Homo sapiens: one gene and its partner. The protein of the gene in region 2 interacts with the protein of the main gene of each other region in a pairwise test. Each region holds a gene or a part of one and is shown on either strand. Other genes may lie near its edges.

What was found. The genes of interacting proteins can lie anywhere in the genome.
Region 1: the proteins of EVA1B (region 2) and ANXA1 interact in binary tests that used the Homo sapiens proteins (3 or more experiments, as listed by UniProt).

The regions. Positions count from the first base shown.
Region 1 is NC_000009.12:73,161,865-73,168,864, reverse strand, and holds part of ANXA1 (annexin A1), read right to left. Parts: intron 6,084-7,000; coding exon 6,004-6,083; intron 5,390-6,003; coding exon 5,333-5,389; intron 3,750-5,332; coding exon 3,656-3,749; intron 2,769-3,655; coding exon 2,673-2,768; intron 1,369-2,672; coding exon 1,310-1,368; intron 1-1,309. UniProt on the Homo sapiens protein: Plays important roles in the innate immune response as effector of glucocorticoid-mediated responses and regulator of the inflammatory process. Has anti-inflammatory activity.
Region 2 is NC_000001.11:36,321,530-36,328,246, forward strand, and holds EVA1B (protein eva-1 homolog B), read right to left. Parts: upstream 2,117-6,717; 5' UTR 1,930-2,116; exon of another isoform or gene 1,539-1,929; 5' UTR 1,509-1,538; coding exon 1,442-1,508; exon of another isoform or gene 1,197-1,441; coding exon 766-1,196; 3' UTR 501-765; downstream 1-500. Other genes in the region: SH3D21 (SH3 domain-containing protein 21), read left to right, coding at 195-249, 6,191-6,351.

The DNA.
Region 1 (7,000 bases), on a different chromosome or scaffold from region 2:
TGAAATGAAAATAAATAATCCTCTACATTAGCGGTAGGTATAGAGAGCTGTCACAACTTCCTAACTCATCTCTCACCATCCGGTCTCTACACTGTCCAATAATTACAAAAAAAGGGAACTTCTAAACTGCAAATCTAATAAACTAGTCTATCTATTTAAAACACTGTCAGTGATCTTCTGTTGCTCTTAGGATAGAATCTAATCAGGGCTTCCGATATCCTGCCTAATTCTTTTTCAAGGCTTACAATATCCTGCCTAATTCTACCATCTCTTCCAGTGTGCACCATCACTCTATACTTACTGTCTTGAGAAGGTTATGTTACCTTTTGCCTTCAAGCCTGTGTGTGGGTTACTTCTTCCTCTTGGACCACCCTTGCTTTATCCCCATCTCTTCCACTCTTGCCCTCATCTGGCTCATTTCTATTTAAACTTCAGGTGTTAATTTAGCTGACAGCAATGCTACCTGGATTTCCAAAGTCTGGAGTATATGTCCCACTTTTCTCTTCCATGGCACCAGGTATTCATCATTACCCAACGAAATATCACACTAGACTATGGCAGAAAGGGGGCAGCAACTATGCTAACCACTACAGAGCAGTACCTAGCATGTCTATCATTTCATATTATTCAAATTATTCATATATATTCAAAATATTCCTTCATATTATTCAAATAGTTAGATCTTTCTTTCTCTCTCTCTCTGAAAACCTCCTTATTTTGGAGCTGCAAAGAAAAAAGGAAGATAACTTCATAACTATTCATTTGTGGGCTCAAAATGTCAGAATAGAAGAGGTACCTTGTATAATACCATGCATGTCAGACAGTAAAGTTAAAGTGACATAGTTGATCTCAAATACATCATTCTACATCCTTAATCATAGAATGACATTTCAAAAGTTTCAACTATTAATCTGTGGCATAAAAGACAGAATAATAAAAACAACAAATCAGACTCATAAAGTGGGAGATTATAAAACTCACAACCTTAGAGGAAGTAGGCCACTAAAATTACACGTTAAAAAAGAAAGTACATCACCCTTCCCGTGGTGACACATGTTTTAAGCAAATCACAAGTGAGCCGTAAATCACTTACAGGCTCACTTTACAATCTCATCTGTAAAAAAAAGCACCGAATCTAACAGAAGTTTATTCTGAGAAGGTAGTGTATTACCTCTTTCATCAAATAGAACAATGATTCTCATTAATGGGAAGATATTAAATGTGAGATTTTCAAACAACATGAGGTTTTCTGTTCTTTCTACAAATAATTCTTCCTCTAAGCAGGACATATAAGTAGAATGGTACATACTTTCATGGCTTGATGAAGCTTCTCTGCAAAGAAAGCTGGTTTGCTTGTGGCGCACTTCACTGTTAGAGAAGAAAATTTTAGTTGATGTATTTACCATGAAAAAAATGAAATATCCATATGAAAGAAACAGGAAATATAGAATTTTGCCAACAGTGTTCTATCCCTCATCATCATTCTTCACCTCTCATCTCCCAATATAGGGCAGTTAACTTCTGAGAAGGTATTTGTGACTCTCTAGATGGTGGTTTTGAATATTCTTTTCCCTGACGATCAATTTTTTTATTACCTTAAATACATCTCAAGAGCAACTTCAGTAGTTTGCGCTATCCAACATATATTCTCCTTGGGAGTGGAGAAGCCACTAGGTGTTCAAGCCTATGTAAATACTTTATTTATGTTACTATAAGAACATTTAAAAAGAACACCCTATGAACAACAGACACTGCAGACTACTAGAGAGGGCAGGGAGAGAAGGGGCATTGGTCAAAAAACTACTTATTGGGTACTATGCTCACTGCCTGAGTGCAGAACACCCATGGAACAAACGTGCACATGTACCTCTGTGTCTAAAGTAAGAGTTGCACAAACAAATAAGTAAAAATAAATGAATAAATGAAGAAAAAACTCTGGGATAGGATGGGCTTAAATATAAAACAGAACCCAAATAATACTAGCACATTCCAGTTCATAGTGTTCTTCATCTTGTCGAGATCTATGGACCAACAGCATTGGCATCAATGGGGAGCTTGTTAGAAAAGCAGAATCTAAGCTCCACCCCAGACCTGGGGAATCAGAATCTGCATTTTAACAAGCTTTCCAGGGGATTCAAGTGCATAGTCATGAATGAGAAACACTGCTTGAGAACATAGGTTCCCCAACCCTGATGGTTGTCTGAATAACCTGGGAGATCTTTAAAAAGTACCGATTTTTAGAGGCCAACTCGGACCCACTGAATCAGACTCTCCTGGACCTGCCCAAGATTGTACAATTAACAAGCAGTAGACCAGGACTTGAAGTTACATTTATCCAGATGTTACATTTATTCCAGATCCCATGCTCTCAGTGACCATTCTGAATTGCCTCTGTGGTGTGCCCAGCCTGGTACATTGTTTGATATAAGTAGGTGCTCAATAAGTATAGTCTATCTCTCTCTATTTTTGAAAAGGGGAATAATATCTATTGTTATTAAGGTTATAGTACTTTGCCAATCTTTTACGTTGCTTCAATTGAAACAGATGCACTACTTCTGATTGTTTTTTGTTTTCTTTTATTGGTTTTGTTGCTGTTGTTCTTGTTAAGTATAGGATAGCTTTGAAAATACAATTTCTAGTTAGAAAACTCTTTCAACTGCTGGACTACATACCGATAGCTGTGAGGCATTTCTCAATGTCACCTTTCAACTCCAGGTCCAGAACTTTGTTCATGTCATGCTTACTGTACTTGGTGTATTTCTGAAACACTGAATATTAAATTCAAACTAAGATACATGCAAAACATCCTTTTCTTTAGAAAGCTTTAGCAAAATCAAGGCAACTGACTCAAAGAATTTTTTAGAATAACAACTTTGGCTACACCTTTTAAAGCAATATACCCAATTAATCATAACGTGAATACTTCATCCTCTCCTAGGAATGTAACTTACCTGGCCATTTTGGTATTCCTATATATTTTGGCGAAATGTTTGCAAATGTTGACAGTTATTAGAAACGGCATGTGATTGACAACTATAGCACTTCCTACAGCAGTTCTAAGAGCCACAGCAAATGGATCTTCCCTTATATAAAGACCTGTGCACTAAATTTCTCTTACATTTAACAGTAGAAATCAGTATACTATTATAAGATGGTGAACTTTGGTAATTGTCATAACTTTTCCATCGCCTTCACTTCCAAGAGGCCCAGAGCTAAATCTTGCACTCAAAGGCCAGGACTTTTTCTGAGTTTTGTCTTGTTGTTGTTTTTCCAAAGCACCTACATATTTCTTTCTTCATTTAGCTCTGAGGGTTTTTTGTTTTTTTTTTTTTGTTTTTCTTCATTCTAATTTCATTTGTTCTGTTATGCATGTCTTTTCCCACACATATTCCAAATCTTTTAGGGGAGTAAAAGCAGTGAAAATAACAAAATTATGTTCCACATGCCCAAGTCACAAAATGTATTAAATATGATAAAGTAGCGGCTGTACAAAATTGGACAAATTGACAAATAACAATGGGTCAGGAACACTGTATCTGTTTGATACAGGAGTGATATTGAAAAAGGGTTCTGTTTTTACTTTCTCTTATTTGTCATCAAAAAAGAAAATTGCATCTTCCATAAACAGATTCCAGAAAAAGAAATTTATTGTTACCTCTGCGAAGTTGTGGATAGCTTCTGGTGGTAAGGATGGTATTGAACACGTTTACGTCTGTCCCCTTTCTCCTTTCTCCTGCTTCATACAAGGCCTGTCAAGAAACACAAAAGTAAACACTTCACTATCTGCTGAAATGATATCTGCACAATAATGTTAGACCTTGTCAAAGATTATATAGGCAATCGCTTTGTGCCCAATACAATCAGAGTAGTCAACAATAAGATTGCAAGTTCTTTAAAGATAGGGACCTTATTTTGTTTGTCAAATATCTTCCACAGTTTCTCTCAAGGTGCCTTGTAAACACTAGAGTCTGAATATATGTTTGCAGAATAAATGTTTGCTGAACTAAATTGCTTTAAGATTATGCTCTATAGTAAGACAACTCCAAGGGGATCTCTAAAGATTTTTTACTCTGTGTTGTTCAAAGTAATTATCAGCAAATGTTACTTATAAATCAATAATTCAACCGTAACCTGGACCTTGCATTTTGATGTTAGAATTTCTGTATTCAAATTCTGACTCTGCAATTTCAAAGCTGCATAATCTTAGACAAATAGATCAACCTTACTAAATGACAGATTTTTTTCTTTTATATATGAAAAATATAATCCCTGCCCTATTGTCACAAGCGGTCTTTATTAACTTTGAAATGTTGACTACCATCATTCTCTTGGGTCACACTAATCCATGTAACCTCCATAAATATATATTAAGAACCCTGATAGTCTTAAAATGGAAAGCAAATTCAGAAATGTCAAAAGCAAATAAGAATTTTTTATTATGGGCAATTATTCAAATGCTAACTCTTGTTCCTTAATATGCTTGAACAATTTCTATTAAAATGATAAAACCTTCAATGTATGTAAAAATTATTTTGCATTTTTCAAGCAAATTGATCTGATATGTATGCATTTGTTGAACAAAAAGTTCATGAGTGCCTATTATGTACATGATAATGTACTGGTATAGCAGAAGTGGATGGGGGTGCACAAAGAAATCTCTATCCTTAGTGAAGCACTGTAATGAATTCTCTAGAGAATACTGTTCCATGAGAAGGCATAATGCAAATATTAGTTGTTTGTTTGTTTTAAATGGAAATTCCAGGCTTTAAAATGATATGATTTTTCTTATGTTGCCAGTGGTTTGGCATATAAATAATCAGCAATGTCACTGAAACTAAATAAAACAATATGTTAGAAAGCATATATTATTATAATTTATCCTATACTCTTGTTATATCATTGCAGTAATATTTTGACAATATAAATTGACATCTATAAACCATTCCAAAGTTCTCTGTTAAAAATAACGTTAAATATGCTTACTCTTTCCATTGCACATAATAAAAAAATTACATTTCCCCTTCTTATACCTAGTACAACGAAAGGTCAGAGTTTTTTTTAACAAACAATTCTTGGGAATGACAAATCAAATTTGTATTGTCCTTCTTCAGTTCTCTCTGGTTTTACGAATAATGAGAGATATTGAAAACTTACAAAGACTACTTTTTTGTGTGTGGGGGCTACAGAAAGACATGCCTCATTCAGGAAATGAACATTAAGAAGCCATTGGTCTCTCAGAAGATCTTAGATTTGCTTTCACAGGGGATCATGTGGTAGCCCCACTTAAGGTAGGAAGATGAACTGCAGCAGTATTTTGTAAGCACTTCCTTACCCTGGCATCTGAATCAGCCAAGTCTTCATTCACACCAAAGTCCTCAGATCGGTCACCCTGAAAGAAATCCCATTCTATTGTAAGCTCTTCTCTAGCATGTAATTGCATGATTTACTTAATTATCTTAAACTCAGATAAATAATATTTTTTGAGAAAAAGGTATTCTATTACTCATTTCTAGAAGGAGCTCAGATACAAGATTTTACTTGCGATGGTTTTAGATGTTCTTCCCCTCCAAACCTCATGTTGAAATTTGATCCCCAGTGTTAAAGGTGGGGCCTAGAGGGAGGTATTTGGGTCCTGGGGCTGATCTCTCATGAAGAGATTAATGCCGTCACTGGGAATGAGTTCTTGCTCATGAGAACCACGAGAGCTGGTTGTTAACGAGGCTGGCACCTCCCCATTCTCTCTCTTGCTTCCTTTCTTGCCATGTGGTCTCTGCACACACCAGCTCCCTTTCCTCTTCTGTCAGGAGTGGAAGCAGCCTGAGGCTCTCACCAGACATAGATACCCAAACTTGAATTTGTTAGCCATCAGAATCCTGAGCCAAATAAACCTTTTTATCTTTAAAAATTACCTAGCCTCAGATATTCCCTTATAGCAACACAAAATGGACTAAGAAATTAGTCTTTATAAAACAAGAGGCATTTCCTAAAGTATCTGAGTTGTACCTTAGCAAGAGAAAGCAAAGCGTTCCGAAAATCTCCAGATGTGTCTGAGGTTATGTCTTTGGCCAGATCTCTCTTCAGTTCTGAGAAAAAAGAAAAATAGATTTTATAGTAAACCAGTGATGAATAATAATAAGAATATCTGACATCTCTAAGTTGGTTGAAAATTCACAGTGCCACAGTGTTCAATGACTTATGGAACATGTTGCAAAATATTATCATTTTTAAATAAGAAGAGAAAAATTAAAGCAGGTAAATTTTTGGATCATTGAATTTATTTCATATGAAGCAATGGGAGCAATTTAGATAATACTGTGATTGAAAACTCACAGTCATAAAGCTTTCGTTAAGAATAAATTGTATAGGTATACATTAGTAATTAATTCTGAAATACAACATGGCAGAATTTAAGCAATAGAATGAATAAAATAATTGTTTAAAAGAACAAAATGAGGTACTTGCTTGAATGCAAATTATTTATTTAGTTTAAAAACTATAAATGTCTTATAAGTAATGCAGTTTGATGATTTATGTGTGTGTAAACACTTCTGCTTAACTACATAAAATAATACTGTAATAGGAAAAAATAATTGAATTTATAATTGACTAGTGCTATGGTTTTCATATTGTTTGTTTGGCCCTGCCAAGTCTCATGTTGCAATTTATTCTCCACTGTTGAAGGTGGGGCCTGTTGGGAGATGTTTGGATGATGGGGGCAGATCCCTCATGAATGGCTCGGAGTGAGTTCTCATTCATAGTTTCTTTAAGAACTGGCTGTTGAAAAGAGCCTGGCACCTCCTTTTCTCTCTCTCCCTCTCTGCACACATCTGCTTCTGTCTGCTTTCTGCCATGAGTAGAAGTAGTATGAGGCCCTCATCAAAAGCAGACGCTGGTCCCATACTACTTGTACAGTATTTCCTTTCTTTTTACATTACTTGGTCTCAGATATTTCTTTATAGCAACACAAACGGACTAAAACAACTTGAAACTGGGCAATGTA
Region 2 (6,717 bases):
CCTTCTCGCCAGCTCGGACCCCTCCCAGCTGGCCTCCCTGTCCGCTCAGAGGGACTCCTGCCCTCTCGCTTGAACGCACCTCGGCGCAGACGTGAAGTCCACCGTCCAGCCCAAGCACGCATGCTTACACCGGGGCTAGCAGCACCTTAGCCTCGAGGTCAGGGTCCTGAGGCCTGGTGTGTGTGTCATTGCAGTGTATGAACCCAGGGCACTGTGGGGACAGGGCGACGTGTGTCCAGGCGTTTGCCGGTAAGGAATGCGTTTTGAATAAGGAATGCGCGCGCGCTTGCTCTGTGTGTGAGGCTGGGTGCAGGCCTGTGGGCTTCTGCTTTTCTGCTGGCTGTGAAGTGAATGCGGGCAGGTGTGCTGTATCGTCGGGTTGGTGGGTGGGGGTGGTGCAGCTAGGGTAAGGGAGTCAAGCTGGGCCTCAGTCCTGGGGCCCCTGCGTGGCAGGAGCCTGGGGGTCGCTGGGGGCAGGAGTAACAGAGGGAGAGACTGAGTCACTGAGAATGCAGCTTTCTTTCATTTGGTCACTTCACCTCTTCATCGACCCCAGAGAGGGAGTGGGGACCCTGCATGCTGCCCCCTCCCCGCCCCCGGGGTCTTCTGGCAGGACTGGGGAAGGGAGCCTCTCAGGGGGTGGCGGTCCACGCCCAGTAGCACCTGGGAGCTGTGGGGGCCGAGGCAGTCCGAAGGTGTGGGGTAGCTCTGAGCTCATGTGCAGGTCCGGTACCCCGAGCGCCTTGCAGCGGGAGCCGGGGCCCATCAGTAATAGTGCATGCGGCCCAGGGTGCCCGTGGCCGTGGGGCTGGGCCCCAGCGTGCCTGTGCCCAGCAGGTCCGGCTGCCCGGTGCGCCAGATCTCCCGCAGGATCCGTTCGCGCTCCTCCAGCCGCTGCGCCCGCTCCAGCTCCTCCGCCGACGTGAAGACGTTGACGTTGAGGGGCCCGTCCGGCTCTGCGGACAGCTCGGGGCCCGGCAGCGTGTCGTCGGGGCCCAGCCGAGTCACCGTGTCCTCCTCGTCCTCGTCGTCGTCCTCGGGCTCCAGGGTGCTGCTGCGGGGGTCCCGGCGCTGAGCCGGGCCCCGGGGCCGCGGGCGGGGCGCCCACGAGATGCTGATGACGAGCAGGCAGAGGGTGAGCAGCAGGCCGAAGCAGACGCCCAGCACGAAGTAGAGGCCGAAGCTCTCGGGGTTGGCTGCGGGGCACAGGGCGGGGGTCACGGAGAGGCCCGGACGGGTGGGGGTTGTCCCACTTCCGAAAGACCCCAGGTTCTAGGTGTGGGGGCGAGGCCTGTAACCCCTACTCGAAGGGCATTAGGGAACCGCCAGCGGGCAAGAGGGCGGGGAGCGGGGCGGAGGGGACGGACAAGGCGCTGGGGAGGGAAGGGGATGGTGGTCAGGGAAGGGTTCAGGCCCCCAGTCTTCCGGCGCCCGCCCTCACCGCGGATGTGCGCGTAGGCAGCCAGGCTGTTGCTGAGCAACTCCATGTCCCTTCGCGGGGCATCCATGCTGCTCTGGGGGGCAGCTCCCCTACCAGCCTGCGAGGTCAGCAAAGTCAGATCCTTCTCCCAGCCTGGAGCCCACCCCGACCCCTTCCGCGGGCAGCTCCTCTCCCGGGAGCCGCGGGCCCAGGTTCCACCCTGGAGAGAGCGCTTCCCTAACTTCGTGGCGGCCCGGGGCCCTGTCGGGGGGAACCCCTCTCCCGGGCGCGGACGCCCCTCCAGTCCTGGGAGCAGCGCCGGGGACCGCGGGAGGCCCCGCCCCCTGGTGAGGTCCCCAGCTGAGGCCCGGTTCCGCCGTCCCGGGGCGGGATGGAGGATAGGGACGCTGAGCCTCCACGCCCCAGGCGGGCTCCGGGAAGGGAAGCTGCCTCTCTCCTCGCCCGGCCGCCCCGCGGGGACCCACCGGCCCGGGGCCAGGCCCACTCACCGTCAGCGCCCCGCTTCCCGGCTGCCCGGCCCCAGCGCGTCCCGCGGCCGCATACACTGGGTCCGGCCGCCCCCGCCCGCTCGGGTCCCGCCGCCCCTCCGGCCCCGCTGGGCTCCCAGGCCGCGGCAGCACGGGCGGGACACGGACCGAGGGACCAGCCGGCGGAAAGTTTCCTCCGAGGAAAGAGGAGGGACGGGGCGGGGCGGGGCGGGCGGGGAGGCGGGGAGGAAAAGGGCTGGGAGAGGAAGGGGAGAGGAGCGGGCAGCCGGGAGGAGGGAGAGCCCGGCCCGCGGGCCGTCCGTCCCCCACAGGAAACCGCCGGGGAGGCCGCGGCAGGGACCCGCCCCCAGGCCACTAACAGCAACAACAGAGAGGCTGGAGCTCTGCCTGCGTGCGGGCCAAGGGCTAAACCTTGGACAGGTTCTTTCACTTACTCCGCCTGACAACCCTGCGACGTGATACCATTATCCCCACTTCGCAGATCAAATAAACGGAGTCTTGGAGAGATTGAATTGACTTTACCAAAACCGTCAGGATTTGAATCTGCTGCTCTCTGATCCTAAAGCCTGAGCTAGAAACCACCGCTCCCCCTCCTAGGAGGCCCCTTCCAGGCAAAGCTGCTTCTCTTCCCCAGACCCATGCTGGACTGGAAGGGAGGGGACTGTCCACCCCTCCTTCCAGGGCCCAGGCTTGAATGTGTCCCCTGGCCGAGCTCTGGTCTAGTCACGCAGGGTTAATGATTGTTGGACTCCAGCTTTGAGCCAGGGCCCGGCCAGCAGTCTCGCAGACCCCAGCGTGGGGCCTCTGTGCCTGCGAGCTCCTGCGCTCTTGTGCACCAAGCAGCTTGTGGCGGCTTGTGGCAGATCCCACCCCATCCCGTCCCCCACCCCAAGGCTAAACCTGCCTGTGCTCACACACGCATTTCCCACCTGGGCTTGTGCATGCAATGTGGTGTGTGATCAGTGTGTGTGGCGGGGGGCTTCCTTCTGCCCTGTCTCCACGGGGCCCCCCCATCATGGACCTCCCCTCCCTTGCTGGAGCTAGAATGAGGGGGAGGCCGCCTTGGCGGGAGCCTTAGAGAGGAGGAGGAAAGGGGGAGAGGAAATTGCAGACATAGCTGAAGGCGCTGCCTGAGGCCTGTGGGCCAGCGACCCTCTCCCTGTCCGGGCTGCAGACCCCTACTCCCCCAGTCCCGAGACTGGGTTCAAGTAGAGGGCAGATCTAGATGGGGGAGGACTAGGACTGACTCCTATGGGGATGGAAAAGGGACTCCTGGGTGTCTTTGTGACTGTTTAGTGTGTTCTGTGAATGTGCGGGCAGGTATTTTTGCCCACATCTGTATATTTGTCTATTAATGTGATGTATTTGAGTATTGTTGTGGGGGCGGGTATGTCTGTATATAAATCTGTGCAGCCACTAGTCAACAAATACTGTGTATGCCTAGCACTTCCTAGTCTAGTCCACAGCATCTGTGGGTTTAACCAACTTTGCATCAAAAATATTCAAAACCAAAATTGCATCTGTGCTGAACATGTACAGACTTTTTTTCTTATCATTATTTCCTAAACAATAGATATATTTAATTTTTTTTCTTTGAGACAGGGTCTCACTCTGTCACCCAGGCTGGAGTACAGAGGTGCTATCTCAGCTCATTCACAACCTTTACCTCCTGGGCTCAAGTGAGCCTCCCATCTCATTCTCCCAAGTAGCTGGGAGGGACCACAGGCGTGCACCACCATGCCTGGCTAATTTTTGTAGAGATGGGGTTTTGCCATGTTGCCCAGGCTGGTCTTGAACTCCTGGGCTCAAGTGATCCACCCACCTCAGCCTCCCAAAGTGCTGGGATTACAAGTGTGAGCCATCATGCCGGCCAATAGTGTATTTTCATAGCGGTTACATTATATTAGATATTATAAGTAATCAAGAGATGATTTAAAGTATACAGGAGGATGTGTATAGGTTAAATGCAAATACTGAACCAATTTATTTTACATCAAGGACTTGAGGATCCTTGGATTTTGGTGTCTATGGGAGGGAGGTCATGGAGCCAATCCCCTGAGAATACTGAGGGACAGTTTTTTTTTTGTTGTTTGTTTTTGTTTTTGAGACGGAGTCTCGCTCTGTCACCCAGGCTGGAGTGCAGTGGCGCGATCTCGGCTCACTGCAAGCTCTGCCTCCCAGGTTCATGCCATTCTCCTGCCTCAGCTTCCCAAGTAGCTGGGACTACAGGCGCCTGCCACCACGCCTGGCTAATTTTTTGTATTTTTAGTAGAGACCGGGTTTCACCATGTTAGCCAGGATGGTCTCGATCTGCTGACCTCGTGATCCACCTGCCTTGACCTCCCAAAGTGCAGGGATTACGGGCGTGAGCCACCGCGCCCAGCCCTGAGGAATAGTTTTAATGGGGATTTAACAATAAACAGAACAGACACAAATCCTTGCCCTCATGGAGCTGACACTAAATTGGAGAAACAATAGAAGATAATCTCAGATGCTTCTAAGTGCTGGGGGGCATGACAGGATAGGGTAATGCGATGGACAACACCTGGGAGTGGCTCTCACAGGGACATCCACAGTGAGACCTGAATCCTAAGGAGGAGGCAGCTGTGCCAGGATCTGGGGAGAGTGTCTGGGCAGGAGTAAGAACATGCTTGGGATACCTCCCTCCAAGGGAAGAAAGCCACGCAGATGGTGTGTGGGTGCAGGGGAGAGTGGCAGGGGCTGCCCGTGCAGGGACTCGATGGCCTTGTTGATGAGCTTTTTCTTTCTTTCTTTCTTTTTTTTTTTTTTGAGACGGAGTTTCACTCTTGTTGCCCAGGCTGGAGTACAAAGGCGCGATCTCTGCTCACTGCAACCTCTGTCTCCCGGATTCGAGTGATTCTCCTGCCTCAGCCTCCCGAGTAGCTGGGATTACAGGCATGCACAACCACACCCTGCTAATTTTGTATTTTTAGTAGAGATGGGGTTTCTCCATGTTGGTCAGGCTGGTCTCGAACTTCTGACCTCAGGTGATCTGCCCACCTTGGCCTCCAAAGTGCTGGAATTACAGGTGTGAGCCACCGTGCCCGGCCAGGAGCTTGGTTTTTAATGTAAGTGTGGTGGGGAGCTCCTGGAGCGTTGAGCAGGGGAGTGTCATGGCCCTGTGACACATTTTGGAAAGATCCCTGTGGTGGCTCAGTGTAGGGTGGGCCACTGTGGGCAAGAAGGGGAGCAGGGAGGGTGGTGAGTAGGCTGGCAGCTGTCCAAGCCAGTGAGGGCGGGGCCGGTGGAGAGGCGAGAGGGCTCAGACTCAGGTGGTGTTCTGAAGGGAGTTCCTGCACTGGACTTGAATGTGAGGGAGAGAGGAGTTTAGAACACTTTCATACTGGGCTGGGGCACCTGAGGAAAGCCCATGTGGGGAAGCAGGTTTGGGGGTAGTCAGTTTCACTGTAGATAGGTTAGACTTGAAATGTCCATTAGATATCCAGGTGCAGGTGTTGGCAATGCAAGTAGAACCCCCAGGAATCTGGCTGAAAATGATATTTGAGAGTCCTTACCACATAAGATGGATTTACCACCCCAGAAGTGGATGAGACCGAACATCTGGGGTAAGGGGGCAGAGAGAGAAGGGTCTGAAGCTCGAGCCCATTGAGGGGTCTCCTGGAGGTGAAGTCAGCAAGGAGAACCAGGCCAGAACAGGGATGTGATCAGCCATGTGTGATTGGGCTGAGAGGTGAAGATGAGGCCAGAATTTGCCCACTGCCTTGGCCGAGATTTGAAGACCATCAGCAATATTGAGTTTCTGTGGGTTGTATTCCTGTTTCTTCAAGGGGTGTATGTCAGTGACTGTTTGCACAGGTAGCTTATTTATGTGCAGCATTGCTGGGAGTGCATGAGCATGTTTAATGCCTGCCATCCACGGGAATATCGGTGTGTGCTACAGTGTGCTTGTATGACTACGTGTGTTGTGTGCCTCAGTGCCTCAGTTCATGTGGCACAGACCTGTGTCTGTGAGAGTCCACATGTGTGCTCCTCTATGTGCAGTCTAAAATTTTGGATCTGTTTCTGTCAAGCTGTTTCCATGCACCTCTGTGCTACGCAGCTCTCTGTATCTCTGCCTGCAGGCAAAAGTATGTTTGTGTCTGGGTTGGTATGTGACATATGTGTTTGGAGTGGGTCAGGTATGACTCAGCCCTAGTGGAGCAGGATGAGGGTTGAGATGATGGTTGCTGGTTGCTTCAGAGAGAGGGACGCACATTAACCAGAGTGCTGTCTTCTCCAGGGGCTTGCCGTGGCCAAGCCAGGCCAGGTGGGAGAAGCGGCAGCCTTGCCCTGGAGGGTTTTGAGAAGCACTGCTCCTGGAGGCCCTGGGGAAGGTCCCTGAAACCTTTGGCCAATGTGGCTGTCCCCATGGTCCACATGCCCTCCCCACCCCCTGCCTAGCTGCTTGACTGCCTGCTGCTCCCCAGCCCACCAGCCTGTCCGTGGGTCAGCCCAGCCACCCGCTTCGGATCTCTGCACGTGTGTCACCTGCTGTTCTGGCCCTCATCCCAACTATCCACCTGCCCATCTCCTCCCTACCTCCTCGCTGCCTATCTGCCCAGGACTTATCTGCTGTCTGCTCACCTGCCTGCTTGTTGACTGCTTCTCTGCCCTCCTATCTGCCTGTGAGACTAGAGATTTGTCACCTTGGAAAGCACGGAGAGTACTGCTAAGATGAAACACAGGAAGGACAGGCCTTGATGGAAGGTTGGGGGGCCGAGAGATCCAGAGCCTATGGGAGGGGACTTGTGAGTGCTGGCATATTCA